Linked DNA regions of Homo sapiens: regions 2, 3 and 4 are each reported to be linked to region 1. Evidence: microRNA targets listed by miRTarBase, many of them from high-throughput screens and not tested one by one. Region 1 holds a microRNA gene; each other region holds the end of a gene's coding sequence.

The links. Region 1 holds the annotated microRNA hsa-miR-6715a-3p (CCAAACCAGUCGUGCCUGUGG, at 3,690-3,710, opposite strand). A microRNA usually pairs through its seed, bases 2 to 8, with sites in the 3' UTR of a target mRNA and lowers its output. Matches are read on the target gene's strand: a 7mer-m8 pairs with bases 2 to 8, a 7mer-A1 pairs with bases 2 to 7 and ends in A, and an 8mer does both.
Region 2: miRTarBase lists NCAPD3 as a target of hsa-miR-6715a-3p. Seed matches in the 3' UTR shown: 7mer-m8 at 1,717-1,723, 7mer-m8 at 1,779-1,785 and 7mer-m8 at 2,964-2,970.
Region 3: the mRNA of CIMIP2B is a reported target of hsa-miR-6715a-3p. Seed matches in the 3' UTR shown: 7mer-m8 at 6,660-6,666.
Region 4: the mRNA of MAL2 is a reported target of hsa-miR-6715a-3p. Seed matches in the 3' UTR shown: 7mer-m8 at 4,547-4,553 and 7mer-A1 at 4,499-4,505.

What each region holds. Positions count from the first base shown.
Region 1 is chr10:112,295,488-112,303,369 of GRCh38, reverse strand. MIR6715A (microRNA 6715a) reads right to left here and starts at 3,758; the gene lies at 3,680-3,758. TECTB (tectorin beta) reads right to left here. Exons shown (of 11, transcript NM_058222.3): 8 at 5,139-5,301; 9 at 3,806-3,878; 10 at 1,237-1,269; 11 at 1-107. The coding sequence ends at 58. MIR6715B (microRNA 6715b) reads left to right here and starts at 3,682; the gene lies at 3,682-3,758. RefSeq lists an enhancer at 705-999.
Region 2 is chr11:134,146,412-134,153,782 of GRCh38, reverse strand. NCAPD3 (non-SMC condensin II complex subunit D3) reads left to right here. Exons shown (of 35, transcript NM_015261.3): 33 at 420-494; 34 at 583-643; 35 at 731-3,670. The coding sequence ends at 839. JAM3 (junctional adhesion molecule 3) reads right to left here. Exons shown (of 9, transcript NM_032801.5): 7 at 5,107-5,236; 8 at 4,965-5,019; 9 at 1,782-4,637. The coding sequence ends at 4,602. SNORD153 (small nucleolar RNA, C/D box 153) reads left to right here and starts at 2,420; the gene lies at 2,420-2,495.
Region 3 is chr9:35,555,233-35,563,114 of GRCh38, forward strand. It overlaps CIMIP2B (ciliary microtubule inner protein 2B), which reads right to left. Exons shown (of 6, transcript NM_001164310.3): 3 at 7,643-7,848; 4 at 7,417-7,468; 5 at 7,148-7,342; 6 at 6,599-6,863. The coding sequence ends at 6,775. It overlaps RUSC2 (RUN and SH3 domain containing 2), which reads left to right. Exons shown (of 12, transcript NM_014806.5): 3 at 1-469; 4 at 720-905; 5 at 1,076-1,216; 6 at 2,682-2,758; 7 at 2,965-3,139; 8 at 3,230-3,335; 9 at 3,994-4,040; 10 at 4,797-5,619; 11 at 5,728-5,865; 12 at 5,949-6,663. The coding sequence ends at 6,150. Among named protein-coding and RNA genes, the nearest start is that of CIMIP2B, 4.7 kb to the right of the region's middle. RefSeq lists a silencer at 5,811-6,003.
Region 4 is chr8:119,241,757-119,249,638 of GRCh38, reverse strand. It overlaps MAL2 (mal, T cell differentiation protein 2), which reads right to left. Exons shown (of 4, transcript NM_052886.3): 4 at 3,966-6,222. The coding sequence ends at 6,151. MAL2-AS1 (MAL2 antisense RNA 1) reads left to right here and starts at 2,782. Exons shown (of 6, transcript NR_149114.1): 1 at 2,782-2,909; 2 at 4,797-4,829; 3 at 5,309-5,344.

The DNA.
Region 1 (7,882 bases):
TTTGTCATTCGCTGAGGACTATTGTGGGTGGAGGAGCGGCAGCTGCCTGGCTAACTCCTATAACACGGCACAAATCCCCAACATCATGATGAGGTGGTGGAGAACATCTGTGGACCAGAAGGGGAGGGAGATGGCACTCAGAGACAGTTCTACAAGGGTAAAGCCAACTCAACAGAAGAGTTAACTCAGGGGTCTTCATAAAATTCCACACATTTTAGACAAAGTCGATTTTGTTCATCCCTTGGGGATTCTGTAGCTCACATTTATCAGTACAAAGAACCTGACAGATAAACCTAGGTTGTGGACCTCTGACAAATAGAAATCAGTGATGGTGCATGGTACTCTAGGGCTTTCAGTGTAGAACTTAAAAACGATGAGAATCTAGGATTGGAATTTTAAAAGTTGATTTACATGATTCTCCTGTAATGATGAGAGCAAAATCTGTCTGTGAGATTATTAATAAGTGAACTGTCTTACCCCATCTCCTCATGTAGTTGCTTCCTTCTTATCATTCAGGTGAGATCTTGGGTCTTAGCTGAAATGTTTCTTCCTCTAAGGGGCTTCCCTGGCTGCTCTCTAAATCACGTCCCCCATTGAACCCCAAATACTCTACACATATTGGCAAGGGAAGGGGCCTTGTCTGTCTTGTTCACGGCAGTAGCCACAAGACCAGTTCCCAGTACAGTCATCATAATCATGGCTGACCCTGACTGGGTGTTTGCTGTTTGCTGGGCATTGTTCAGTGCCCTTAGCTGTAATTAAATATCTATACCACAGCCATGTAGATAGGGGCAATTATTAGCCCAATTTCACAGAGGAAACTAGGGTATGGAGGAGGGGTGAGGTCATTGCCCAAGGTCACTCAGTTAATAAAAGACAGAGCCATAACAAGAATTCAAATATTTGTTGAATGAACAGATCACTGAAAATCTTGTTCTGTAAATGTTGGAATCCAAGGGAAGCCATCTGGGGATGGCTTTACTAAGACTTGGGGAAGTGAGGTCCAGTTCTGCTTCATCCGATTTACCTTCGGTTCCTCCCTCTCTTCAGAGTTCAGGGGCTGGTCAGAGGGAGACCTCTTGATCTCGCCCCCTCTGCGCCACTCAGGTGTGCTTTAAAGTATAATTTTCAATCCTTAAAAGTTTTGCCGGGGCCAAAGTTAAGCTTCTCTTAAAACACTCTCTGCCTTTTAACAGCATAGCCCCACGAAATCCCAGAAGTGTCTCTTTTCCTTACCTGAGAAGCTATAGAGACTGGAAAATCCCCTGCCTGTAGTGAGTAAAGAGAGAATGCAGAAAGTTTAAGAAAAGATCATGGAAAGGAGAAGTCTCAGAGTGATGTTTCTACAACACAAAACCTGGCTGGGGGCTGCGGCTCACACTTGTAATCCCAGCACTTTGGGAGGCCCAGGTGGGCGGGTCACTTGAGGTTGGGAGCTCGAAACCAGCTTGGGCAACATGATGAAACCCTGTCTCTACCAAAAATACAAAAATGAACCAGATGTGGTGGCACGTGCCTGTAATCCCAGCTACTCAGGAGGCTGAGTCAGGAGAATTGCTTGAAGCTGAGATCACGTCATTGCACTCCAACCTGGGCGACACGGTCTCAAAAAAATAAATATAAATAAATAAATAAAACACAAAACCTGACCACAATCCTCCCCTGATTAAACCATCAGGTGCTCCATTGCCTTTCAGACAGTTTATACTGGGGGTTTACAAAGTTTCATCTCACAACGCTTTCTCTCCAAAGCAGGGGTTGGTAAGCTTTCTGAAAAGAAAAAAGTAAATAGTACATTTTGTCAGCTTTGCAGGCCATCCCATCTCTGCTACCACAAATCCACCTGTAGTTGCAGTGCACTGCTGTAGACAATATCTACATGAACGAGTGTTGCTGTGTTCTAATAAAACTTTCTTTAAAGGCACTGAAATTTGAATTTCATATAATTTTTTTTTTTTTTTTGAGACAGAGTTTCACTCTTGTTGCCCAGGCTAGAGTGTAGTAGCGTGATCTCTGCTCACTGCAACCTCTGCCTCCCAGGTTCAAGTGATTCTCTGGCCTCAGCCTCCCAAGTACTGGGACTACAAGTGTGCACCACCACTCCCGGATAATTTTTGTATTCTAGTAGGGACAGGGCCAGGCTGGTCTCGAACTCCTGACCTCAGGTGATCTGCCCGCCTTGGCCTCCCAAAGTGCTGGAATTAGAGGCATGAGCCACCATGCCTGGCCCTGAATTTCACGTAATTTCTACATGTCACGAAATATTGTTGTTTTGATTCTTTTTTTGAACCACATAAAAACGTGAAAACTGTTCTTAATTCCCAGGCCACAAAACCAGGTGGCACCTGGGCCTTGGCCCTTGGCCATAGCTTGGTGACTGTCCTCTAAGATAGAGCCGCTACAGCTTCCCGCCTTCCCACAGGTTTTGCCCACCCTTCATGTCACACTATCCTTCAGGTCTCACTTGGAGATTGTCAGCAGAGCTCTTCTGCAAGCCCTGTACTAGGTTGAATCCCTTTGCTCCATTCAGGATGAATATCCCTTATCCAAAATGCTTGGGACCAGAAGTGTTTCAGATTTCAGATTTTTTTTTGGATTTTGGAATCTTTGCATTATACTAGTTGAGCATCCCTAACTGGAAAACCTGGAATCTGAAATCTAAAATGCTACAATGAGCATTTCCTGTGAGCATGACCTTTGAGCATCATGTGGGTGCTCAAAAAGTTTCAGATTTGGGAGCATTCGGATTTTGGATTTTCACATTAGTGATGATCAACTGTGCAACCATGGCACCAGCCCACTGTCACCCTCCTTAACAGTAATTTCTCTTTCCCTTAGTGTCTAACATCTCTCTCCTTGCTAGACAGTAAATCCCTTGAGGACAGGGCCTGCTTGGGTCACATTTATTTCTGAAATCCTAGTGCCCTGCCAGGCCAGGCAGTGCTGGATACTCAGTAAAGGTTTTTTGACTTGCACATGACATTCTCATGACATCTCATTTTTCCTTCCTTCCTTCCTTCCTTCTTTCTTTTCTTTTCTTTTTTCTTTCTCTTTCTTTCTTTCTTTCTTTCTTTCTTTCTTTCTTTCTTTTCTTTCTTTCTTTCTTTCTTTCTTTCTTTCTTTCTTTCTTTCTTTCTTTATTTCTTTCTGTCTGTCTGTCTGTCTCTCTTTCTTTCTTCTTTTTCTTTCTTTCTTTTTTTTTTTTTTGAGACGGAGTTTCGCTCTTGTTGCCCAGGCTGGAGTACAATGGCGCGATCTCAGCTCACTGCAACCTCTGCCTCCCAGATTCAAGTGATTCTCCTGCCTTAGCCTCCCGAGTAGTTGGGATTACAGGCGTGCCCCACCAAGCCCAGGTAATTTTGTATTTTTAGTAGAGGTGGGGTTTCACCATGTTGGTCAGGCTGGTCTCAAACTCCTGACCTCAAGTGATCTGCCCACCTCGGCCTCCCAAAGTGCTGGGATTACAGGCGTGAGCCACCGAGCCCGGCCCCATGACATCTCATTTTCTATTATTATTGTTCACTGCATGCTCTGTTTGGAAGCTCAGCACTTCCTGATTCTTTGGGGGTATTTGAATTTAGGGTGCAGTTAGAACTTTCAGAGTAGATAACAAACCTCAACTCCTTCGTTTGGCTTGAGCTGTTCCCCACCCCTGGCTGGAAGACTCCAGGAGCAGGTGAAGGTTGTGCCCACAGGCACGACTGGTTTGGCAATTCAGTAAAAATGCTCAAACCGGCTGTGCCTGTGGACGCAGCCCAGCGTGAACTCAACCGTTTGGAAAACAGAGGAAAACAGAGACGCTTACTCCGCAGGGAGAGCTCCACGACCAGGACTCCCCCGGTCTGGTCTCGCAGGAGGCGCTTCCGTTTATCGCAGGTCTGAAGACCCAGAGAGGCAGACAGGAGAGAAGCGGGGAAGGTGGGATGATGCGTGAGCAAAGGGGAGAAAAGAGAAAGAAAAGATATTTTAAAAAGGTCACAAATGGGGTGGAGTCACAATTCCCCAGTCAACAGAGATGAGTTACCTTTTTAAAAAATAACCCAGAAGACACACTGTTCATCCCTTCTCCAACTTGAATACAAAGAGAAAGCTTTACTTTGTTAACTCTTCAAGCCAGAGGGAATCCTTCTGGAAGAGGTCATTGAGTGTGGAAGGGATTGATCCCATTTCCTTTGATAAGGCTTCTACTTACCACTCTCACCACAATAATTAGAGAAGTGGACACTTGCAATTGTATTCTGGTTCATTTTCTTTTCTTTCTTTTTAAAAATATGGCATTGATACTTATCCTTTGATCAACTGTACAGTGTCTCTCCCCTCCTCTCCCTGGCTCTGCACTCTCTGGTTTCTTTCCCTTTTGCTGTTTGTGCTCATAAAGAACCATTTTCTGGCCAAATGAAACAACAGCAATAGAGATTATGACCTTATTTTTGTTGGTTACTATAGGCTATGTGGATAGCAGCCTCTTTGGAAACACCGAGGTCTCCAGTTGAAAGAGACCAGAAAGGAGAACAGTTTGAGATTTGGCATGTCTAAGTGTCTAAGTGGTGGTTCTCAGGCTTGAGTGAGCACCGGCATGACTGCTGGCTTGTTAAAGCACAGCCTGCCCAGGCCTTCCTCTCACGTGGTCAAATCAGCCATGATCCAGTGTCGGGAATTTCTGCAGCATCTCTCTGAAGTCACAGAGGTGAACCCTCGGGCTGTTCAGTCAAGACTAAAAACACCCACCTTTTGAGTTATTTCCACGGCCTGTCCCTGCCACCTAGACCTTGAATTTCCCTTGCCCTTTTCACTTCTTCCAAGTATTTCCAAGTCTGTTATCACTTTCATTTACCTACACTGCCCTCTGATGAGGGAAGGGCCATCATTACTTAACACACTTTGCTTAAGGATGAGAAAGCAGGTCCCAGCAGGTTAGGCGACACATGCCAGACCATGTGGGTTGTTGGAGGCAGGGCAGATAGGGCCCTGAGCATCTGCCCTCACGAGCATCTGCCCTTATACTCAGTGCCATTTCCTCCAGATGTCCTCAGCACACAGCTGCCCTGGCCTGGTTATGATCTCCCCACTCAAACTCCAGCTCCTCCAATACTGGCACCCTTTAGGTAACATTGTCCTTCTGGAGAGAGGCAGCTCACCACTGGGCAGGAGAGTTTCTCACTGTCGCAGATGAACGTCTCACAGTGTAACCACACCTTGGAGAGTTTGGGGATGTTCTGGAACCGGAAAGCATTGAATTGGAAGGTTGCCCTGTGATCTCTCCCATTCTCATGCACGAGGACGGTTTCATCCGTGGGGCAGCTGAGGCAGATGGGGAAAGAAGAGTGAACTGTCATCTCCTTGAACTCCAGCAAGAGCTGCTGAGCGATTTACACACAAGGCTCCCGAGGTGGTTATATGACCTCTAACCTTCCCAGGCATTTTGATTAGCAGCACCTCACTTGATCTTCACAACTGTGAGGTCAAGTTGATGAGCTAGGAGATGGGTATTACTGTCCTCATTCTATAGACAAGGTACGATGGGAGGGGAGTGACTTATAAGAGTCACACTTTTAGTAAGTTACACCTGTGTCCCAAAGAAAGAAAATCCCTAGGAGATAAGGCCCTCCGAGGACTGGAATATGTCCAGCCCTTGAGGGACATACAAAGTAAGGACAATGGCACCAGGTGCAGCATTGCCCCTGCTGCCACAGCTGCCTAAGCTCAAGTCACACCCAACACATTTCTGTGTGTGAACTGTGAGGTTTTGCATTGAAAATTTGTATTTATGGTATATTATTTAAATTATATATATCTACATAGTTACTTTTGTAAAAATGTGGTCACATTTTTAATATAAGCACAGAAATAATGACTGAAGGATACCGTCTAAATGTTAACACAGGCTGATACAAAGGGATAAAATTATGGGCATTTTTGGTTTTCTTCTTTGTATTTTTATGTATTCTTCCAAATTCTCTATAATGAGAATACAATATTTGTATGATATTCCAACGTCTCAAAGGTAATAATTCAGTTTAAAAAATGACACAGATGGGCATTTATTTAAGCTAGTGGTTCTCGCTTGGTCCACTTTGTGCCCCAGGGGACATTTGGCACTGTGATTGTCCAGGCTGGGGGAAGTGCTGCTGGTATCTAGTGAGTGGGCGGAGACCAGGGCTGCTGCTGAACGTCCTACAGTGCACAGCACAGCCCCCACAGTGGAGAATGGTCCCACCCCAAATGTCAAGGTGCCAACATTGAGAAACCCTAGTTTCAGCAAACATACTTTTTCATTTAACAAAGACTGATGACCTAAGTGCCGTTCCTTTAACTAGGTGTTGGAAACAGACGCAACCATTCTTGGGACTGTACAGAGAAGCCCACACTATTGTGGGGGTTTGTTATCTGCAGGTAGCACGGGGTAGCAGGGTCTGTCGCTCTGCAGGAAAAGGTCTATGTTTCGAAAGCGTCAGACCACTGAATAGCACCATAGCAGGCCCCAGATTAATGCAACTCTGAAGCATCTTTCTTCTTGTATGGTAAACTCGGCACACACGCCAGAGAGCGGTCCAGTTACCCCAGGGAACCTTCATGATGTTCTCTACCCCACCCCTTTTCCCTCAGAAACAGACAACGGGGGGCCAAGCTAAAGGCAGGCACTAAGGAAGTCAAGTGTGAGAGTGAGGGAGTGAAGTGAGGGAATGCTGTACCTTTGTATCTGGACCAGGGGTCAGAGCCGGGTCTGTGTGTGGTGGGCTCTGAACAGTGATGAAACTGTGGCATTTTCCAAGTTGTGAAACAAGACTTCTGTAGGATCATTTTGTCAATAAACACGAGATCCTCGTATGAACTCAAGATGGGAGTTCTTAAAATAGCTCTTTGCAGCCAGAGTGCCCCAGGCATGGTCAGCCAGTGGAAAATAATGTAAGCAGAGCTTTGTCAGGGGGTGGGGAGGAGGCAAAAAATAGGCAGATCTAGATGCCTTGGCACTGCTGCTTCTTGGCACCAGCTGCAGCACCCACACTTCAGTGGCAGCTGCCTCTAGATGGTGGAAGCCCACAGGAGGCTTTTATGCCCTCTCTGCATGAGCCTCCTTTCCCATGTCAGATTGCTCTTTGAGATAAGTATGCTGCTTTTGGGGCATCCATGTGTACAGGGAAATTCCTTATGATATATCTCCTGCCATCTCTCCAGGAACTTTTGCAAACTGGGTTTTTTTTTTCCAAAGGGGCCCAGTGTTGTGAGCAAAAATCATCTGGAGATTGTGGGAGTGGACTTTTCCATTCTCCCCTTTGGCACTGAACTTTGTGCATGTATCTCCAACTTTGAGGTGCCATGTCAACTAGGAAGAATGTAGAAATGGGTCGGGATGTCTTACATCTGGCTGTGTTGAAATGCAGATTCCGTGGGTTTCCCCAGAGTCCTTCTGATCTGGTAGGTTTACAGTACACCTGCATACGTAATAGGCACCCTACACAGTTTGTGTGTACACTAGAGCTTGAGGACAATTGTGCAGACCACCCAAAGCCACAGGCATCCCTTTTTCAGCCATGTTGCACATCTGCCAGATGGGAACAACGGCACTAGAACTCCCTGCAGAGAGATGATTCCAGGGGTAGCAGAAGCCTTTGCCTAGTGTGACCATTGCCTGAGAGAGGTTCCCAGTGCCTGATAGCAATTTCTGGTCCCTGCAGGTCAATACGTTATTTCAGAATTCCTGGAGTCATTTGATTGCACCATTGCTAACAGAGGCTGAATGAATTGAATCATTCAATGGCAGATGTGAGGTAAACACCCAGATTAAGCTGCCATCTCTACAGGAGGCTTTGCTGGGCTGCACAGGTGTGCCTCGGCCAGCCTGTCCTGTCCAGGCCACTCAGGAGGTAACACTGACTGAGTC
Region 2 (7,371 bases), not on the chromosome of region 1:
GTCACTGGCTGGAAACCAGCAGGCACGCGTGGAGGTGCAGAGGCAAGGAGTTGAAGTGTCCTCAGGGAATCTGGGTGAGCCACAGTAGGAGGTGTAGTAAGTGGGACAGGGCGGTCACCGGGACAGGGGCAATGATGGAAGACGGCGGGAGGGAAGCCAGAGGCGTGAACAGTGAGGCCCAGGGGCCAGCCGAGTGCCTGAGGGCTGCGGGTCAGAGAAGGGGGTCAGAGAGACGGAAAGGAGCATCCCCAGGAGGGGCCCTCAACACTGCCAGGCCCTGGGACAGGGTCCAGTGGAGGTCTGAGGGCCGCCGCTGGGACACTGATGTGGACACCCTGCCTACGTCCCACGGACAACTAGAACAGAGACCTCCGATAGACCACGCGGCTTTCACTCAGTGGTGTCTCCTCTTTATGCAGAGAGCATCAGTGATGTCACGTTTGGAGCAGGGGTCAGTTACATCGGGACACCACGGACTCCGTCGTCAGCCAAAGGCAAGTTCTTGGTGTCCTTCTGGGCTGATAGATGCACTGCCTTTGAGGTTCTGGGAAAGCTGAATGTGTTTGTTTGACTCCCTTTTAGAGAAAATTGAAGGCCGGAGTCAAGGAAATGACATCTTATGTTTATCACTGCCTGATAAACCGTAAGTTTAGCAGTGTTCCTTTTGAGGTGGATGTTTCTGTCAGGGTTTTTCTGAGTTCCAGAATGACTGCACATGTCCTTTCCCTAGGCCCCCACAGCCTCAGCAGTGGAATGTGCGGTCTCCCGCCAGGAATAAAGACACTCCAGCCTGCAGCAGGAGGTCCCTCCGAAAGACCCCTCTGAAAACAGCCAACTAAACAGCGCCTCCCACCAGTGTCCAGGCAGGCAGGAGCCCTTGAGGAAGCAGTCTCGTGTCCTCCGTGTGAAGGCAGCTGGATCACTTCCCGCAGTCCTTGGGCAGCGCTTTGCTGTGGAACACGAGAGCTCCTCCTCAGGGGCCTGGCACTCACCTTCTATTCTGTATGATGTATTTGGTTAAACACTGTCAAATAATAGAGATGTGCCAGATTTAGATTTTCTTACCCTAATCTGTTTAATATTGTAACTTTATTCCATTTGAAAGTGTCAAGCCCATTCAGATAAGCTATAATCTGGTCTTTAAGGAACACAACTTTAAAACTGCAGCTTTCTTTTATATAAATCAAGCCTCTGTTAACTTGAATTCCTTATAGTACATATTTTCCCATCTGTAATGACGAAATTTTGATTCTAATATTTTTTCTATTATTTATAAGTGCAAATTTTTTAAAAAAGTGTACAGCTTTCTAAAAGTAATAAAGGTTTAGCATAAATACAGCCTTCCAGTAGTCAATAGGATTTTTCTGTTTTTAGAACAGAGCTCTTATTGGTAATCATTTTAATTTTACATAAAGCATGTTTGTTTGTTAGAGGAATGAAACCAAATCTTCCCTATTAGAAAAAAGATGATTGTCTTGAAGGGCAGTTCATCTGTGCCCAGGCAGAGGCGGTGTGCTTTCCCTAACAGACATGAACAGCATCCCTTCTTGGGAAAAAATGGCTTTGCAGCCTTCCCCAGAGCAGCACTGCCGATTTGTGCAGCCCTCTGTTAAGGGCTGCTCCCATGATGGGGGAACAGCTTGAGTCTCTTCTGTTAGCACTAGTGGGTAAACTGAATGCTATTTTTGTTCAACAATATCCAGAAAGAAATGCAGTTGGTTTGTTTTTTAATCCCAGTATTACAAAAGCAAAAGTACAAAGTGATGATGTGCGTTGGTTGGTTTGGGGGATGGGATGCCACTGAGATCTGCCCACTGCCATCCCAAGTGGGAACCGCAACACAGGTGGGCTCGGTGGCGGAGAGGCGCAGCACTGCTCTTGAGCACACAGGCTGACCTCCTGCCCAGCACTGACTTCCCTGGTGGATGGGTGATTGATAGCATTTTTAGTGTGCATGCCTAACCACTGAAATGCTAGGAAGAAGAGACAAACCCAACGTAAGAGCAAATAACAAAGAATGAAGCAATGTTTGGGTTTTTTTGAAGCTTTTATAAATGAGGTTAAACAAATGCCAAATTACGGTGTGTTAGTACAAGTCTGTAGCATCTGTGTACAGCAACATCCATCCAAAGGCAGAATCACAGCCTCGTATCGGCCTCGAGTCTTGAGTCACATTCATATCTTAAAATACACGAGTATTCCTTTTCCGTCTAGTCTCAGTTATAGGCAGCTACTTCCCAGACTCTACTTTCACTTCTCTCTACTTTTTCAGACCTGGTTCCCATGGCACTAGTGTAGAAGGTTTTAGGGTATAAGAAGAGGGGGCAATAAGGCTACCCTATCACTATGACAACCAAGAAGGAGGCTGGAGCGTGAATCCCCAACGCTGAGGGTGGGGAGCCATCCCTCTCTACCAAGGTGGCAATGATGGAGGGAACTTGCATGCTAAGCATCCAGGATGCCATGCAGCAGACACCAGGGAGCACTGAGCCACTGCTGGAGCATTTCCTGCCTCTGCCAGGCGGCCTGCGGCAAAGTGTTTCACATAACTAAAAAAAGTCAACACAGTCTCATGTATGCAATTAAAAAAAAGCTGTCAAAGTATAAAAAACCCAAGACACTGGAAGCTGAAAGACAAGGTGAGTAGTGAGAGCCATTCTCCAGGCACACAGTGGAGTGCTCCTTCTCAGCAGCTCCTTGCTTTACAGCACTTCAGTCCTGAGTCCAGCACGGCAGGGCATGTGAGGCTGAGAACACCTGCTCTTGAAGAACACAGGCTTCTGAGTGATGTTGCTAATGTCCCCCCACAAATGGGAGCAGTGTCTCCGGCGGATGAAAAATTTAAAGTCAAAATTAGAAAACTGCTTTTGATTCAGGCGTTTCACTTTCCTCCCCGCCAGGCCTTTCACCTGGCTGCTCCACCTGACGTTCTTTAAAAGGCTGGACTGGCCGCCACTCCATCATGGTTTGTTTTGAAATGCGACAGAGCCTGTGGCGTCTGGGTGCTTTCTCTGTGGCAAAGAGGAACAGTGGGATCCATTTTCTTTTAAAAATGTTATTGTACTTGACAGACTTGATTTCGCAATTGCCTTTGGCCTTAGACAATCTTAACAAATAATTAAACAAACTTAAAAAAAAAAAATAGCATTGGGGGCCCTATTTTGTGAGCCATCCATAACCAAAAAGAGGTCTGTTACAGGAGCCCAAAGCTGGGACGCTACATGGAAGACACCAGTGTCCCTGCAGTGCCCACCTGAGAGCTGTGCTGGATGAAGCAAGGGCCACGTGAGTAAAGCTCACTGGGACACAGCCACTGCCAGGGCCCAAGGATGGCAGGGCCTCCTGGCAGACAGCGAGGCAACAGTGAGCTAGAGCGGGGGCGCCTGGCGCAACCCCAGGAGCTGACTGGCATCTGTGTATGTACATCTGAGGGCTTCTGGGTGGCCTCTGGGTACAGACTGTCCTAGTCATCTCAGGAAGAGGCAGTTCAAAGCTAACCTGAGAGGTTTCTTTTGAAGAGATGCAAACTGATTTCAACATTGCTTAACTGGAATTTTTAAAGGTTTCCTAAGCAACTATGGTCTGATGTGTAGACAGTATGAGTTCCCTTGTGAAAAAGGCTAAAACTTGTGTGAGAAAAGGAACATCACAGTAAACTTCCATGAGAGGATTCCTTGGGTAAAATACTCTTAATTATTGATATTTTCCAATTTAACACTAGTAGCTTGGAACTTCTACCTTAAGTTGAACTTTTTTAAAAAAATAGGTTATTTAACATTGTATGACAATATATTTACAGTTTAAATAGAAATTTTCTTTTCAATAATCAAAATACATCCTTAGCAAAAATTTAGATGTAAAATTTTATAAAATAAACAAGACCCATAGAAAAGCATATTTCAGTACCATTTCAGACTTAGCCTAAGACGAAGGTTTTCCTTAAATCCTGACACCCTGTTGGACAAGCAGGGTTCCTCAGGCAAGATCCCTCTTCCAGCAACCAATTTACCTTCCTGATTTTGGTTGTTTTTACAAAATGCTGATCCAAAAAGCTTCTCCACAATGGACACTGCAACACCGATCAGCAGAGCCTTTAAGAAGAAACTGCGGTGGTGTCTGTGGGCCGATGAAGTAAGGCTGCTGTGTAAGAAGCCTTTTCTGGGTTCCCGCCGGGATGCGCTGCTGGTGCTGTCCAGCCACCTCGCCATCTCACATGGTGCTGTCGTGGCTGCTGAACGACCAGTGGTGAACATGCTGGCTTCACAGGGCCCAGCACGGGCGTTTACGTGAGCAAACTCTTTAAGATCACCCTAATACTCATGCGGGAATCAGGCCAGAAACAGATTAGGAACCCAACTCAGTGAACGCACCCAGTTTCGCTTCCTTGTGGTTATATTTACCGGGTCCATCTTGAGGAAAATTCTTCTATTCATGTGGCTTGTTAGAGTAAGAAGAGTAGTGGTCAACTTTGGCCAAAACGAAAAGCTTCTGAATGAGTGTCTAGCTCTGTCCGAGTGCATCAGCTCTCGCTGCCTTGACAGGAGTTTCTAGCAGAGGTATGTGCACGTGCGCTCTGTGCGCTCTCAGCCACACCGCGGGTCTCAGATCACAAACGATGACTTGTGTCTGAAGTCGCCCTGCAAAGCCAACACACAGTTAGAGCCATCAAGGGGCCTGGTGGCAAGCAGGGAAAAACACGGAGTAAGTCTAACATGGGCTAAATACAGATGGAATAATCATTCTTAAAAAGTACCATCACTAGCGCTTGCAAAGCACAAATCCCATTAGTGTGTGTGTGTGTGTGTGTGTGTGTGTGTGTGTGTGTGTTACTGTGAAGGGGCTGAGGAGCTCAGGAGCTGCACAATCACTCAGAAATCTTCCCAGGAGACCCGTGTGGTTTCCAAGGGGGAATGTTGTTTTCCCTGCTGGGTACACCTAGGTTTCCAGGTTTACTAAATGATTACCTCCTCGTCAGTGCGGATGTAGTTAACTCCATCTGGTTTCCCTGGGTTCTTGTAACTATGAGGAGAAGAGAGCAGTTTAGCAACAGGGTTGTTATATTATTGCCAGCTTGAACTTCCCTTTTTTCACATAAGGCAGGCTCACCTTTCTCCATCCTGTTTATTGTTGATGAAGTAGCCACGTCTGTATGCACAGCAGATGCCCAACGTGATCAGGGCCAGTACAGCAAGGACAACCAGAACCCCCCCAATAATTCCGCCAATGTTCAGGTCATCTGAAGAAAAGGAGGTTTGGTGGAAGCCATGATACACACTATCTGTTATTTAAAAAGGCCCTGGCCCTGCTGTGCCTCCTTCCTTCACCCCAAACCCACTTGCCCCCTGCCCCCTCAGGCCTACCCCAGCTAGAAGAGAGAACACTTACAATCCTTCTAGCCTAGAACATATAGGACACCATAACTCCTAACTTCACACGTGAAAAGTACTGAGACTTCTACAGTTGAAATGCAGTCGCACTGAAAAGTGTATTAAAGTGGGCTTGGCACTGTAGGCTTAAAAATCCTCTGGCTGAATGCCTGAGATTACTTATGGAGGAAATGGTTATGAGGACAAGATTAGGAGCCAGGATCCCAAGAAGAAAAGAATCCCTAATTTCCAGGGCCTCCCTTTGTTGCAGATTGCTGCGGGGAAGAAAGGTAGCTTCAAGCCTTAAAGAATCTGTCTCAAAAAACAAACAAGTAAAGAATCCTAGGTAAGAACTAGAGCTTTGTCTCTGCCGGCTGCCTGACCTCCGATCTATAAGCCCTCTGAGAGGAAACCCCCTGGAACCCTTTTCTCATGTCTATACACTGGGCAAAGGCACTGGGTCACTTTCATATGGGGCTCTGGCAGCCGTTCCTTCAAGCAAGCGACACATGGAAAACTATGCAGGGAATTTATCAACAAGAGCCAAGTAACTTGGAAGTTTTAAAAAAATCTCCTTTATCCTAGTGTATTGGTTCTCAAAGATGAATGTACACTTAAAAATCAACTTGCAGGCCGGGCGCGGTGGCTCACGCCTGTAATCCCAGCACTTTGGGAGGCCGAGGTGGGCAGATCACGAGGTCAGAGATTCGAGACCATCCTGGCTAAGGTGGTGAAACCCCGTCTCTACTAGAAACACAAAAAATTGGCTGAGCGTGTTGGCAGGTGCCTGTAGTCCCAGCTACTCAGGAGGCTGAGGCAGGAGAAAGGTGTGAACCCGGGAGGCGGAGCTTGCAGTGAGCCGAGATTGTGCCACTGCACTCCAGCCTGGGTGACAGAGCGAGACTCCATCTCAAAAACAAAAAGTAAACTTGCAATCGTTTTTTTTTTTTTTTTTTTGAGACAGAGTCTTGCTCCGTCACCGTCACCCAGGCTGGAGTTCTGTGGTGCAATCTCGGCTCACTGCAAGCTCCGCCTCCCGGGTTCAAGGGATCCTTCTGCCTCAGCCTCCCAAGTTACTGGGACTACAGGCGCCTGCCACCACACCAGGCTAATTTTTGTATTTTTAGTAGACACAGAGTTTTGGCATGTTGGCCAGGCTGGTCTTGAACTCCTGACCTCAGGTGATCCACCCGCCTCAGCCTCCCAGAGTGCTAGGATTATAGTGTGAGCCACCACGCCTGGCATGCAATTTTGATGTTAAAATGTCAATTCCCAAGTTTCATCACTAAAAAGTCAATAGGCTAAAGTAGGTCTGGGGCAAAACTGCAGGAGAAAACAACCCTAGAGCAGAGTTTCTCAAACGTGACACATGAGAAGAATCCTTCGGAACGCTTGTCTCACACACAGACATTTCTAGCATATGTCTGAGGTGGGCTCGAATCTGTATGTGAAACAGTGGTCCCAAATGGGTATCACCAGGCAGTTTTGGAAAATGCTGCTCTGAGGAGAGCTCCAAATAGGGAGGAGGGAAGGATTCAAAAAATGCTCCTGGCTGGGCACAGTGGCTCATGCCTGTTAATCCCAGCACCTGGGGGAGGCCGAGGCAGGAGGATTGCTTGAGGCCAGGAGTTTGAGACCAGCCTGGGCAACACAGTGAGACCCCGTATCTACAAAAAATAAAATTAGCTGAGCATGGTGGTGTGTGCCTGTTGTTCCAGCTACTCAGGAGACTGAGGTGGGAGAATGGCTTGAAGGCTGGGTTTGAGGATGCAGTGACCTGTGACTGCACTCACTGCACTCCAGCCTGGGCAACAAAGCAAGACCCTGTGGTGTTTTTTGTTTTTTGTTTTTTAAGAAAAAAAAAAGCTCCCCAAGTGATTTGGACACATCCTCTCTGCCCCCACCCTCCTCTCAACGCCCCTCCATTAGGGGAACCAGAGCCCTGAGATAACATTACTCTAGGGGCTAAGCTTTGTCTGCAGGTAAAATTACTCGGGCTAAAACT
Region 3 (7,882 bases), not on the chromosome of region 1:
CAGCCTGCCCCACTGGCTGCCCCTGCTGCTCAAGTCTCAGTCCCAGCTCCCTCAGGGGAACCGCAGGCATCCACTCCCCGAGCCACTGGCAGAGGTGCCAGGAAAGCTGGGTCTGAGCCAGAGACCTCTCGGCCATCGCCCCTGGGCAGCTACTCCCCCATCCGGAGTGTTGGCCCCTTTGGGCCCAGCACTGACTCTTCTGCCTCCACTTCGTGCTCCCCTCCCCCAGAGCAGCCCACAGCCACAGAAAGCCTGCCCCCATGGAGCCACTCCTGTCCTTCTGCTGTCCGGCCTGCCACCTCCCAGCAGCCGCAGAAGGAGGATCAGAAGATACTGACCTTGACTGAGTACCGGCTCCATGGAACAGGAAGCTTGCCGCCTCTGGGCTCCTGGCGATCTGGCCTCAGCCGAGCAGAGAGCCTGGCCCGGGGAGGTGGTGAGGGCAGCATGGCCACCAGGCCCAGTAATGGTACGAGCTCCAGCATCTCCCTACCCAACCCGCCACCTCACGCAAGCACTTCCACCACCTCCCCTTTGAGTGGTTGCTTACACTCTCACCTGGGGCCAGAGGTTAGGATGTCTGCATCCCTCCCTCAGCATCTGTAGATAATATCCACAGATAATCTAGTGTTTCATATGGGCCCACTGGGTGGATGTGAAACTCTGTCTCGCTGTCTCCTGCCAACTCTTGTCTTTCTGCTAATCTGTTCTGCTTCCAGCCAACCACCTATCCCCTCAAGCCCTCAAGTGGCGGGAATACAGGAGGAAGAACCCACTAGGGCCACCTGGTTTGTCAGGGAGCCTAGACCGAAGATCACAAGAAGCTCGGCTGGCCCGAAGAAACCCTATCTTTGAGTTCCCTGGCTCCCTCAGTGCTGCCAGCCATCTGAACTGCCGGCTGAATGGTGTGTGAGCAGGGTCCCCAGTACACCCGGGGCAGGCTCTGCCATGGCTGGAAAGGGCTAGAGAAGGGGTCAGTCCCAAAGGAACGTGTCTCAGACGGTACGAGGCACTGAACTGGCCTGGAACTCCTGCACTGAGAGTTGCTCAGGATTGATTTTTCTCTTCTTTCCAGGCCAAGCAGTGAAGCCGTTACCACTGACCTGCCCTGACTTCCAGGACCCCTTTTCCTTGACGGAGAAGCCTCCAGCTGAGTTTTGTCTGTCCCCAGATGGCAGCTCAGAGGCCATTTCCATTGACCTGCTTCAGAAAAAAGGTGCATACAACCCCCAGCTCAGGCCAGGGACTCTGCTGTCACTACCTCCTCACACTTGCCCTACTACCTAGCCAGTCTGAAACCTCTAAGTGCTGGCTGGGCCCAGTGGCTCACGCCTGTAATCCCAGCACTTTGGGAGGCCAAGGCAGGTGGATCATGAGGTCAGGAGTTCGAGGCCAGCCTGGCCAACATGGTGAAACCCCATCTCTACTAAAAACACAAAAAAAAATTAGCTGGGTGTTGTGGTGGGCGCGTGTAATCCCAGCTACTCGGGAGGCTGAGGCAGGAGAATTACTTGAACCCAGGAGGTGGAGGTTGCAGTGAGCCAAGATCACACCATTGCACTCCAGCCTGGGCAACAAAACTGAAAACTCCTTTTCAAAAGAAAACCACAAACAAATCTCCAGGTGCTGGGAAGGTGTTGGAGCACACAGGCTCTGGGGCCAGAGGAGGAAGCTGTGTGCTGTGTATCATGAGTGCATGTGAGTGAGCAAGGGTCATTCATCAGAGGCTTTCAGAGTCACGCTCCGGTCCCTTCCTGCAGTGAGCAAAGTCTCATGAGGAGGCTTCCATGTCATCAAAAAATGCCTCAGTGCTCTTGGAGGGGGCGGGTGAAGGTACTAGAGGGCCCAGCAGCTTGGGTAAGAGTGTTGGTGACATCTAGTAAGATGAAGATTGACAAGACCCACACTATTTAGCAAATAAGTGACCACTGAACTAAGAACATTTTTAGGGAGATGGAGAGAACTGAGCATAATTGTGGGCTGAAGATGAGCCTGTGAAGAGAGAGCTGAAGTTCCTTGCAAAGGCAGAAGGGGAGAATCAGAGCTCAGGGAGAAAGAACCCGGGCAAGAAGGGAAACGGCCACCTTCCTCCAGGACGCGAAGGGGATGCAAGTGGGCAGGGGAGTGAGGGGTGTACATATGAGATTGTTATGGATTTTGGAGGTAGAGGGAAGTTAAAGGAGTTTATAACTAGGGAACTCTGTTCTCTGAAGCAGAACCAAGGGCTTGAGAGGAGGGGTGTCGATTTCACATGGCAACTTGAGGGTATGGCAGAGAGTGCTGACAAGCCATGTGTCAAAGAACCGCCCTTGTCTGGCACTGGCACTGGGGTGAGGGACTTGGGTTTTCTTCAGGTCAGTGGCCCGGTTTCTCAGAGTGGAGAAAACCGATAGTTGGCCTGACCCAGGATTGGAATAAGGGCTGAGAGGTAAGGACATTGAGAGGCTTGACAGTGGCATCACTGAGGTAGCTCCAGGCTGGGAAGTAAAGACAGGAAGAGCTTAAGAACTGGGCAGAACCAGAAAAGGGCCAGGCCTGAATGTTTTGATAAGACCCATGTGCAGATGTGGAGACGGAGTAAGTGTGGGAGCCCTTTCCCTGAGGAAACCTGAGGTTTCAGCCCCAGCTGAGTTGGTTAAGGACTTGCTCAGGGACCTGTCACATCACATTCTTCCCTGCAGGGCTGGTAAAAGCTGTTAACATCGCTGTGGACCTCATTGTGGCTCATTTTGGCACAAGCCGGGATCCCGGGGTGAAGGTAGGCAAGGAAATGTGGAGAGCTGAGCTCTGCCTGCAAGCCCTCACCTGTCCCGCGCTACCACCTTCCCTTGCTGTCTTGCATTTAGAGCCCAGGGTTGGGTACTTAGGAATGGGGACGGCAAGAGGGGAACCATGAGGGCCTGCTACGAGAGGACCACAGTCAGGCCTGAGGGGGTTTCCTGCACTTCCCTACCACACCTACAGGCAAAGCTGGGAAACAGTTCTGTGAGCCCCAATGTGGGCCACCTGGTTCTGAAGTACTTGTGCCCTGCCGTCCGCGCCGTGCTGGAGGATGGGCTCAAGGCCTTTGTACTGGACGTCATCATCGGGCAGCGTAAGAACATGCCATGGAGTGTGGTTGAGGCTTCCACACAGCTAGGTAGGTGCTGGGTGCCAAGACGGGGACCCAGGGCTGAATTTAGGGCTCCAGAAATTGGTCATGTGACCTGCAACCCTGGCTTCCTCCCAGGCCCATCCACCAAGGTCCTGCATGGCCTCTACAACAAAGTCAGCCAATTCCCAGAGCTCACCAGTCATACCATGCGCTTCAACGCCTTCATCCTCGGCCTGCTCAAGTGAGTGCACAGAGCAGCAAGATCCCCTAAACAACTTGCCCTGCCCCCCACCCCCGGGCTCTGCCTGCACCAAGGAAACAACGCCCTGGACAGACAGAAAGGGTGGATCTGGAGGGTCCCCTCAGCCCGCTATGGCCTCTCAGTAGGTCACTGCCTCCCCACTGTGCCCATGACTCTGTCACTGGTCACCAACGTGGTCTGCTTTTACAAATCTGTAATCTGGCTTATTTGGAAATTAGTTGGGTTTCTTAATTTCTCTGGACCTTGTAAACCCTGATCCTCTCCATTCCAGCACTACTTCCAAATCCTGCTTGACCCTAAGTCCACCTTGGGACCCACATCCTAGTAACATGCTTTCTCAGGTATGGGCCCAGGCCATTCCCTTTGGCCCTGAGCTGCCTGTACTTTCACACAGTAGCTGCCTTGATTTCTTAGGTCTACTGCAGGCTGACTCCACTCCAGGAGGAAACAATTGGCTTGTAAATCACATGTCCATCTCCCTCCACACATCCCCACTGACTTTCTGGAATTAGGTGAAATGAATCGTGCCATGGAAGGGCGTGTTCACCTATTCTTCCTGTGCCTGACCCCCTGGATCTGTCTCCTTATCTGGCTGTATTCACACAAGACTCAACTCTCTTCACCTGTCTCCCTACAGCATCCGGTCCCTGGAGTTCTGGTTTAATCACCTCTATAACCACGAAGGTAATGCCTAGAACCCTGCAGGTCAAACTCAATGGGTCAGAATTCAGAGGCACAAAAGAGGAAGGAAGAGCTGTCTTTTCATTGCTGGAGGTGGGGAGGGGGACCACACAAGCGTTCATCCTCAGAGCCTCAGGCTTCCACCCAAGGCCTTCCCCAGCCTCTGCTTGAGTTAAAACCTTGGGCCAGGCATGGTGGCTCATGCCTGTAATCCCAGCACTTTGGGAGGCCGAGGCACGTGGGTCACCTGAGGTCAAGAGTTTGAGACTAGCCTGGGCAACATGGTGAAACCCCGTCTCTACTAAAAATTCAAAAATTAGCCGGCTGTGGTGGCGCATGCCTGTAGTCCCAGCTACTCGGGAGGCTGAGGCACGAGAATTGCTTGAACCTGAGAGGCAGAGGTTGCAGTGAGCCGAGATCATGCCACTGCACTCCAGCTTGGGCAACAGAGTGAGACTCAGTCTCAAAAAACAAAACAAAAAACCTTGGAGCCAGCAGGATACTCTAGCAATCTGGGAGTTAGGGTGGCCAGGAATCCCTGCATCTCACTCCTCTAAACTCAGGGCCACCGCCTGGGGTTGGAGAGTTTAGGCACTGCACAGCTGTGGGCAGCAGCGTTTATACTTAGTACATGCAAGTTGACTAGTGCACAGCCTGCACCGCTGTCTGCAGCAGCTCTGCCCAGACTGTCTTTCAAAGTCCCACTTGGGCCAGGCTCTGGTTCTCTGTGTGGATCAGTCCCTCTCTCTTTTCCCCTAGACATCATCCAGACCCACTACCAGCCCTGGGGCTTCCTGAGTGCAGCTCATACCGTGTGTCCCGGCCTCTTTGAAGAGCTGCTGCTGCTGCTACAGCCCCTGGCCCTGCTGCCCTTCAGCCTCGACTTGCTGTTCCAGCACCGGCTGCTGCAAAGTGGGCAGCAGCAGCGGCAGCACAAGGAACTGCTGCGGGTGTCCCAGGACCTGCTGCTGTCTGCCCACTCCACGCTGCAGCTGGCCCGGGCCCGGGGCCAGGAGGGCCCTGGAGACGTGGACAGGGCAGCCCAAGGGGAGCGGGTGAAGGGTGTGGGTGCCTCAGAAGGTGGAGAAGAGGAAGAGGAAGAAGAGGAGACAGAAGAGGTGGCAGAGGCAGCCGGGGGCTCAGGGCGTGCCAGGTGGGCCCGAGGTGGGCAGGCCGGCTGGTGGTACCAGCTCATGCAGAGCTCCCAGGTCTACATCGATGGCTCCATTGAGGGTTCCAGGTTCCCTCGTGGTAGCAGCAACAGCAGCAGCGAGAAAAAGAAAGGGGCAGGAGGTGGGGGACCTCCCCAGGCTCCACCACCCCGAGAGGGAGTAGTGGAGGGGGCTGAGGCCTGCCCTGCCTCTGAGGAGGCCCTGGGCCGGGAAAGGGGCTGGCCCTTCTGGATGGGGAGCCCCCCTGACTCTGTGCTGGCCGAGCTGAGGCGCAGTCGGGAGAGGGAAGGGCCCGCTGCCTCGCCAGCAGAAAATGAGGAAGGGGCCTCAGAGCCTTCACCTGGAGGCATCAAGTGGGGACACCTCTTTGGCTCCCGAAAAGCCCAGCGGGAGGCCCGGCCCACAAATAGGTGAGAGCCTGCCCATGGTAGGGATGGAGGGAGTAGGGAGCCTGCTGTAAGCCAGGGCACGGGCAGAGCCCATCCTGGGCAGAGCCTGAGTCCAGCTGCTGTCCCTAGGCTCCCCTCGGACTGGCTGAGCCTGGACAAGTCCATGTTCCAACTAGTGGCGCAGACAGTGGGTTCCCGCCGGGAGCCAGAGCCCAAGGAGAGCCTGCAGGAGCCACACTCCCCAGCCCTGCCCTCCAGTCCTCCGTGGTAAGCCTGGGGAAACGGAAGGGCTGAGGGGGGCGGGGGGCTTTTGAGGGGGTTTCTCTGACCTCCATGTGCTGTTTCCCCAGTGAGGTGCAGGCACTGTGCCACCACCTGGCCACCGGCCCTGGACAGCTGAGCTTCCACAAAGGAGACATCCTACGAGTGCTGGGGCGAGCTGGAGGAGACTGGCTGCGCTGCAGCCGTGGCCCCGACTCTGGCCTGGTGCCCCTGGCCTACGTGACATTGACCCCAACTCCAAGTCCAACCCCTGGAAGCAGCCAAAACTGAGGCCCTGTGCATGCTGGTGGCCTCAGGGACCCTCATAACCCCCAGACTCAGAGCCCGAGAGCCCTTCCCAAGCCATTGGCTTGGCTGCAGAGTAGACTGAGAGCTGGGGCCACGTATCCCTGTGCTGGCACCTGCTCCCTGTGCTCAGTATTAATTACGCCCCCTTAACTGTCCCAGTGACCTTGTCCAGACCTCCACCCAGGAGAGGGATGGGACACAGCACTGGGCTGCCAGGATTCCCCTGGCCCGTCTGGGCCAACCCTTCCATGGGTGAAGACAAGCAAGTCCCCCTGGAGGCGGGTGGCCCAGAAAGCCATCTACAGGGTTCCCTAGGCCAGGTGGAGATGAGGATGGGTAACAGTATTGGGGCCAGATCCCTAAGCCCCCCAGCTGTAAATAGGCTGTGGCCAGTGCCTGGTCATCAGAAGAGGGAGGAGGAGCCCAGGCGTCTGTTTATGTATTTATTTATTTATTTATTATACCTATTAATAAAAAAGGTGCTCAGCCTCCAAACCATTTTCTCTTTGTGTTCCCCCACCCTCCCACCCTCCCACCCACCTCTCTCCCTTCCAAAAGGATGGCTGGGATAGGATGAAAAGGGAAGGGAACTTGATGTCCAGTGGCCTAAGCCAAGAGCTGCTTCTGGAAGGTGCTGAGGCCCAGAGCATCATGGGTGAGATGGCCAAATGTGTGGCCAAACTGGAACTTATACCCTGTGTGGCCAAGAGAGTCTGTCACATGTAGCAAGTGGCATGGCAAAGCCATTTAATTCTCAGCCAGTTGGCTAGACCTCCAAACAGCCCTCTAAAATCTGGCCCTAATTCCCCACTGTGGGTAGCTACCTCGGTTTCCTTTTCTGCCTGATAATAAAGCTGAACCACATGATCTGAGCCCTCCCATATCTATTAGTTTCAACCCCCACAAACCACCCAACCCACCCCATACCCATACAAACAAACATTCCAGTCCCCAAAGCCTCCCCGGGGGCTCTTCTCACCTGGCACGTAGCCCCCATAGTTAGGTAAAAGACCCAGGTTCTGAGGGTATGTTCTGGGAAGTGGGGGGAGATGTTTGGGGTCCTGGGCACTGCCTGGTGAGTGCTTCTGCCCAAATTCCTGCAGTGCCTGGTTGGTGAGCACAGGAAAGCTGGAGCCGAAGAGGAAGCGGGCGCAGGGCACATAGCCAGTGAAGCCTGAGGATGGGGACACTGAGCCAAGGCATCCTGGGGCCTCCCCACGCCTCTGATCCTGACCCCCCAGCTCTCACCTGACATGAAGAACTTCCGAGGGTCCCTGTCATCCATGGAGTAGGGAGAAGCCTGTGAGAGAAGCCCCTGTGCTGTCACACAATCTCCCAAGGAGGTGGAGCTGACAATCAAGTGCACATCCCCTGAACCCACAGCCACACTACTCATGCTGCCCCCACTGCCCGGACACACAGTAAGACCCCCACTCCCACACCTCTGCACTCCCCACCAGCTTCTTGGTCTCACTTGTTCCACCACCTCCAGTGTCGGCTCCTCCAGCTGCCCCTCCGGCTCTGGCACCTGGTCCTTCTCTGTGTCCTTTCTTCCCTTGGCCTCCTTTGGTAGCTCTTCACTCCCTTGCTTTTCATGCAAGTGAGTAAAGTCACTCAGAGCCTCGGCCCAGACCTGGCTGCAGTTCTTGGCAAAGATGAACTGTGCCCGGGGTACAAAACCTGGGCAGGCAGGGACAAGGAAGACTCGTTAGTG
Region 4 (7,882 bases), not on the chromosome of region 1:
CAACCAGCCTGATAGTGTTGGAATAGCCTGCTAAAAGCACATTTGAAGCACCAGCACAGAGGCAATACCCATGACAGTGGGGTGCCATTTTCCTGAATGCCACATGCACATTGAATTTGAATTTGAAACTTCTATAGAGTATTGTGTTCCCAAAAGGAAAAACTAATCGGCCTGGGAAAAGAGAGATGAAAACAGGAGTGGCCTCATTTACCATCACTCCCAGTGACTCACTATGGATTTTGTGCTTCCCATCCTTACAGTTTGGGGTTCTGCTTGATTACCATTCTGATCTCCAAAGGAGGCTTATTCTTATCTGGGGCAGAGCAAGGGTTTTATTGAACTACAAGCTGTGGCTGCTGTTGAGGCATTTTGGAGTCTTTAAGCACCAAGCGGGCAGGAAGGAGTTGCCCTTTTTGCAGGGGTAATTTATCCTGATAAAAAGGTATGTAGGGCTGTTATTACACAATAGAAATAGGAATATGTATGAAACTCAGGTGATCCACATGGGCACCTTTGTGGTAATTCCTTGTCCAATTATGACTGTGGATGGACAAGTGCAGTGACCCCCACCTGAAAAAGTTACTGTTGTCTTGGTTTCAGACCCTTCAAGAATGAGTGTGTGGGTCACACCACCAGATAATTCACCCAGACCTGCAAAGGTAGGTGATAGCTGCTAAGACAATTCAGAATGGATGGTTGGAGAGAGAGATGAATACCAGTTGTGGCCCCAAGACCAACTGCAGTGATGTGGCTGAGTTTGACCCACTAACCTTTCTTTTTTAAAAGTCTTACCCTCAGGATGAGAGGCCCACTGAGGAGTAGCTCCCAGGATATGCATGGAGAAGTGGATTGATTTGGTACAAGGGGTGAAAAGTGGCAGTTATGAAGTGTGCTATTTAGATCTCCAAAAGATAACCATCCACAGGGAGTGCAGTTATCTGACAGCACCAGTTGCAGATACCCTCAGGATCTTCCTTCAGTGTCCACACCAATGAGCTGAGGCCATTCATTCTGGGCAGTCCACAGGCAATGACTGCACATGGTGTTGGTATCAGGGCTCATCGTTTCCAGCTAGTGTGAGACTCCTCCTCTATGGGCAGTCTTGGTGTTGGAGCTCACTGCTAAATTGGTTGAGACTTTCTCAGAATGAGCACAGTCTGAGGCTCTTCCTACCTAATCTTACTTCTCCTTTCATGTGAGTCAAACCTATATCAGGGGCAGAAATATTTTTTTTCCTGCTTGTGCTCTCTCTCCTCTTTATATTTTATAGGCATTATCTCCAACAAACATCTCGTACTTTGAACTGCATCTTGGCTTCTTCTTTCCAAAGGACCTCCTCTCCCAGACTTGCATCATCATCACTGGTAGATGATAACTTAGGCTTGAATAAATTAAGTGGCTCACCTCAGGTCCCACAAATGTTAAATGGACTATTTTTTCACAATACTTATTCTCATACTGAATAATATCCATGAAATCACGCAATTGATGTGCAAGTTATAATTCCCTAATTCACATTGAAAGTATAACTAACTATTAAATTTAAAATAAAAAACAAGACTAAGTCTGGTCAACTTAGTTATCCCACACTGGAAAAGTACATAATATCACATTTTTTTTTTGTTGAGAATTTGTTTGTTCTATGAAAGCATATTTGGCCAAGAGTTAATTTTTGAGATTTAGTCAATGTAGTCATTCTGAAGAAATGGAGTACCTATCGTCTTACTGAGAAACCAATTTCAATGCTTATGGCTGCCAGCCTGTGTTAGACACATCCATCAAAACAGCAAAGGAGATAGTCCAGTTTTATGCCCTCCAAGCCAATATTCTATTCCTATGGCCTCTAAAATGGAGTATGTGTACTTAAAGAAATATGCAAGATAATACACAGAGTGACAAAGGAAATATTTTAACTATTTTGTGAACATAAAATTAAACTTTTACTAATAGGTTGGTGCAAAAGGAATTGCAGCTTTTGCCATTACATTCAATAGCAAAAACCACAATTACTTTTGAACCAACCAAATACTTAAAATAGGCGGACACCAGTTCATATATTCCACATGCATAAACTATGTATGCTCAAAAATGGAGACAACTGTTAAAACCTGCTGTCTAAAATTAACAAAACACAAGCCTTCCATTCTAGTGGAGAAGAGGACAAATATAATAAATTAATGCTATATGCATATACACTATACATAAAGTATGTCCTAAGAGCTATGGAGAAAAATGTAGAAAAGGAGAACAGGGAGTGCTAGTGTGAGATTCAAGATTAAATGTGGTTCTGAGGTAGGACCTCACTGTAAAGGTGATGACTAAGCAAAGACCCAAAGAGGGTGAGAAAGCCAGCTCTGTAGGTAACTTGAGAAAAAAGTGCTCCAGAGAGAGGAACTAGGATTGTCCTTTTGCTAGGGGCACAGCCTAATAAAAGTATAACTAACGTCCTTTTTTGTTACAAAGCTGGACATTCAAAACATTAAACATATTATAACCAATTTTTGCCAGAGGTTGCAAGTGTTTTTTGTGAAAAATCAGACCTTGGCGATGACCTTGAGCAGTAGGATATAAATAACTCCCACAAGCTTAATGTTCCAATAATGGAACACTAGGCATAGATAGGTTAAAGATCATTGCTATCCCCATACTCTGGACCCCTGCCTGATGAATACATTAAGCTGACACCTGAGACACTGATTCACCAATTAACAAACTTCAGGCATGTTGTTAATGATAGAACCTTCATGACAGTGATCCAGAGTTCCAGATTCTAGAGTATTCAGAGGTGGAAATTCATAGTCCATGCTCAAGATCGAATGGCATCTCTCAGACTGGAAGACCTTTCTGAAGTCAGTTCCAGACATCCCTGGAAGGCTGGATAATTTGGGAAAAGGCTGACTCAATGTAAGGTAATACAGCAGACCAAAGCCCCCATAGTTCATGCCAGAAGTGACAAAGCGGAAAAACACTCAGGTAGACAAGCACTCAGGGACCGTTCTAGAGGCAAGTGGCCTAACCTTTTCTCCATCATGCAGGTTTGGCTTAAATTCTTACAGCTAAAATCATGAGTCCTTGGTTATGACAAAAATGTTCTAAGATATGACACTTACAATAACTATGATGTTAAACATTCTGCTAAAACTTCTCTGGGTGAAGAAAAGATCACATTTTTGGATATAGATATAAAATCTGGGTGAACTGAGGCAAACAGAAATTAAGAGTCTGCACTTCGGAGTCAGACTGTTGGGGTTTAAGTCCCAGCTTTCTCACCTGCTAGGCAGGCAGCACTGGGTGTTTCTTAAGGTTTTTTAGTCTCCAAGCCTTTAAAATGGGATAAGAGTATACACCTCATAGGGTTGTTATGATGAGAAATAAATGAATATGTGAAAAAAATGCCTGAAACATATAAAACATGGTATAAATGAATGCTTTTTAAATAAAACAATTCTTTTTAGCATGGATAGTGGTTTTTTTTGTGTGTGTGTGAGACAGGGTCTCACTCTGTCACCCAGGTTGGAGCCTCAACATCCTGGGCTAAAGCAATCCTCCCACCTCAGTTTCCCAAGTAGCTGGGACTAGAGGCACGTGCCACATGCACCCAGCTAATTTTTAAATTATTTTGTAGAGATGAGGTCTTGCTATATTGCCCAGGTTGGTCCTGAATTCCTAGTGTCAAGTGATCCTTCTGCCTCGGCTTCCCAAAGTATTGGGAATACTGGCATAAGTCATCACACTCGGCAAAACAGAATTCTCATTTAAACTTCCTTTGCAACGTTACTTCCAAAGACTTGCCTCTTTCACCTTCATCAAAGAAAAAAGACTTACTGACAATTCCTGAGAGACTTTTACACAGAAATGTTTAAAACAGAACTTTTTATACATTATAATTCTATAAGCTCTGCCAAATTTATATCAAACCTTTAACTGAATTTCAAAGTGAATGGTGTAAAAGATGACCACAAAGATTATCAAATGAATACTTTATTAGAGACATAACACGTATAAAATAAATTTCTTTTCATCATGGAGTTACCAGATTTTAAAACCAACCAACACTTTCTCATTTTTACAGCTAAGACATGTTAAATTCTTAAATGCCATAATTTTTGTTCAACTGCTTTGTCATTCAACTCACAAGTCTAGAATGTGATTAAGCTACAAATCTAAGTATTCACAGATGTGTCTTAGGCTTGGTTTGTAACAATCTAGAAGCAATCTGTTTACAAAAGTGCCACCAAAGCATTTTAAAGAAACCAATTTAATGCCACCAAACATAAGCCTGCTATACCTGGGAAACAAAAAATCTCACACCTAAATTCTAGCAGAGTAAACGATTCCAACTAGAATGTACTGTATATCCATATGGCACATTTATGACTTTGTAATATGTAATTCATAATACAGGTTTAGGTGTGTGGTATGGAGCTAGGAAAACCAAAGTAGTAGGATATTATAGAAAAGATCTGATGTTAAGTATAAAGTCATATGCCTGATTTCCTCAAACCTTTTGTTTTTCCTCATGTCTTCTGTCTTTATATTTTTATCACAAACCAAGATCTAACAGGGTTCTTTCTAGAGGATTATTAGATAAGTAACACTTGATCATTAAGCACGGATCATGCCACTCATTCATGGTTGTTCTATGTTCCATGAACTCTAATAGCCCAACTTATACATGGCACTCCAAGGGGATGCTTCAGCCAGAAAGTAAAGGGCTGAAAAAGTAGAACAATACAAAAGCCCTCGTGTGGTGGGAACTGTGGCCTCACTCTTACTTGTCCTTCCATTCAAAACAGTTTGGCACCTTTCCATGACGAGGATCTCTACAGGTAGGTTAAAATACTTTTCTGTGCTATTCAGCCAGAAATAGTTTTTGTGCTGGATATGATTTTAAAACAGATTTTGTCTGTCACCAGTGCAAAAACATTACAGATGTCTGGGCTAATACAAAAACACATAAGAATCTACAACTTTATATTTAATACTCTATTCAAATTTAACTCAAAGTAATGCAAAATAATTAGAAGTAAAAACTTAATTCTTCTGAGAGCTCTATTTGGAAAAGCTTCACATATCCACACACAAATATGGGTATATTCATGCACAGGGCAAACAACTGTATTCTGAAGCATAAATAAACTCAAAGTAAGACATCAGTAGCTAGATACCAGTTCCAGTATTGGTTAATGGTCTCTGGGGATCCCATTTTAAGCACTCTCAGATGAGGATCTTGCTCAGTTGTTAGACTATCATTAGTTTGATTAAGCAACTGAAGTTTACTTCATAAATTACTTTTTCCTATATCCAGGACTCTGCCTGAGAAATTTTATACATTCCTCCAAAGGTAAGTATTCTCCAAAGGTAAGTATTTGACTATTAACACAAAGGCAATGTGATTATTGCATAATGACACTAAATATTATGTGGCTTTTCTGTTAGGTTTATAAGTTTTCAATGATCAGTTCAAGAAAATGCAGATCATATATAACTAAGGTTTTACACCAGTGGTTGACAAACTATGGCCCACAGGCTAAACCCAGCCTCCCCTTGTTTTTATAAATAAGTTTTATTAGAACATAACCACACTCATTCATTTCTGTATTGTGTATAGCTGCTTTCACGCTATACTAGCAGAACTGAATAGTTGTGACAGAGACTGTATGGACCGTGAAGCATAAATATTTACCATCTGGCCCATTCTAAAAAAAGTGTGCCAATTCCTGGTTTACACTAAAATATAGAGTTTAGTGGGAAGCCTATTTGAAATGTGTTTTTTTTAGGGGCTGTAATTACCAATTAAAATTAAGGTTCAGGTGACTCAGCAACCAAACAAAAGGGATACTAATTTTTTATGAACAATATATTTGTATTTTATGGACATAAAAGGAAACTTTCAGAAAGAAAAGGAGGAAAATAAAGGGGGAAAGGGAAAAAGGGGAGAGATGTAAAATAAAAGGCCATTTCTTTAATATCATAATAAAATTAACATTCCATCCATGAAATAAACCAGAACTTGAGCTTAGAGTCTCTCTCTACTAAACACATTACTTTTGGAATGTTTTTGCATCTGGACAAAATGGTATCCAAATTGATCAGACATATAAAGTAGACAAGTGAAACTAACATACGACTGCCAGTTTCTAAGGAGTGTTACGGTCGCCATCTTCGTAAAGCCAGACCCAAACTGCAACCATAACAAGCTGTCGTCATAAAGGCAAAAATCTAAGAAAAAAGAAACAAAAATTCACATCAGATTTACAACACCGACTTATAAACAGTGTCCTAAAGAACAACCATATGAAGTTTGACCAACAATCTACCTAAAGATACTTCGACACTTACAAAAATATTTTACATTGTTTTTTTTTTTTTGATGATTTGTACAACTGTTTTATTCCCTCATACAATTACCCTCCCCCCTTCCTTTAAACATTTTAGCTCCTAATAATTTTCTCATTTGTGGACAACTTTACACTGAACATTTGTTCAATCTGTTCACATTCTGGGCTCACTTAAGTATTTGTGAATCCCTAAGCACTGTATTTAAAAATTCAGCATGAAGTTCTGTTCATGTAGTGGCTTCACAGCCAAGGAAGCCAGCAACTATCAGAACCTGAGGATGCATCAAATAATTTCTATGATGATGGAAGGTAACTTTAAAACTCAACTAAGACAAGTGGAAATGAATTATCAGGTTGGCTTGCTCTTGTATGGGAGACAGTCCTGTGTACAAATCTGCACTCTACTTGGAATTAATGAGAATTTCTTCAGCACCAACTGTGTGTATATCACTATACTTGGTACATATAAACAAACAGTAGATAATGTCCTCACCCTTTTGGGGCTTATGATCCATAGAAGACTAAAAGACAAAGCAAAAGCAGTTCAACATGATAAATGTTTGATAAATGTTGTGGGTTTAGCACAGGGATTCTTAACCAGGAAACCAGTTCTGGGAAGGAATACCAGATTCACCTATAGACCATTTTCACAGTTTACTATTCTGCTTTTCTTTCCACCCTTCTTCTGCTGATTTTTTCTCTGATACATTTCTAATCTAGACATTGTTTTCTGAATGACAGCAATAGCTTTTGATACCTATTTTTTGATACCTATTATTTGATACCTATTATTAGGGAAAAGGAATTTTCCTCTCTAATTTCCCAAATGGATGGCTAATACATTTTAGTTACAATAAAACTCAAACTAGAGATTTACTTAGACTGGAGTGAGCATATGGATGAAATGGGATGTAATGTTGAACTTGAAGCATGTAGAGGTTTACTGAGACAGCTTCACTTAGAAAGGGAAGGACAACAGGGACAAAGTCACAAAAGAGAAGCAGCCAGAACAGAACTACATTATGGAGAACACGGAAAACTAGGCCCTTAGGACAAAGGTGACAAATTAAAGACCTCAGACAACCATCACGTATTTCAGCAGCTACTATTCTTGTGAAAGTAGGTTCTAGGGTGACTGTCAATAGATTTGGGGCTACTTCAATGATCCAAGATACAAGAATCTAGCCTGCACCGTTAAAATGAAGGGACTGGAAGTAAGAAACACATAAAGGCAAATACAATGGGAATTGATGACTAATAGCATAGGAAAGTCCCTGAACTTTGCTTTGTAAAGCTGTTAAAACCAAGGGTTTTCTAATGTGGATCACAAGGATTCTATCATCCTCAGGGATGATATGGGTGGGTAGAGGCAGCTTTATGAAAAGAGAATGAGCATCATTCAAGGCCCTCTTCCTCCACTTCAACTAGAGCACTTACACTTTTATCTTCTAGATTTATTGGGGTTTTAGGTAAGAATTGATTAAATAAAACCTTTATTTCTTTTATAAGCAAGTGTTAAAGTCATGAATCTACACTATAAA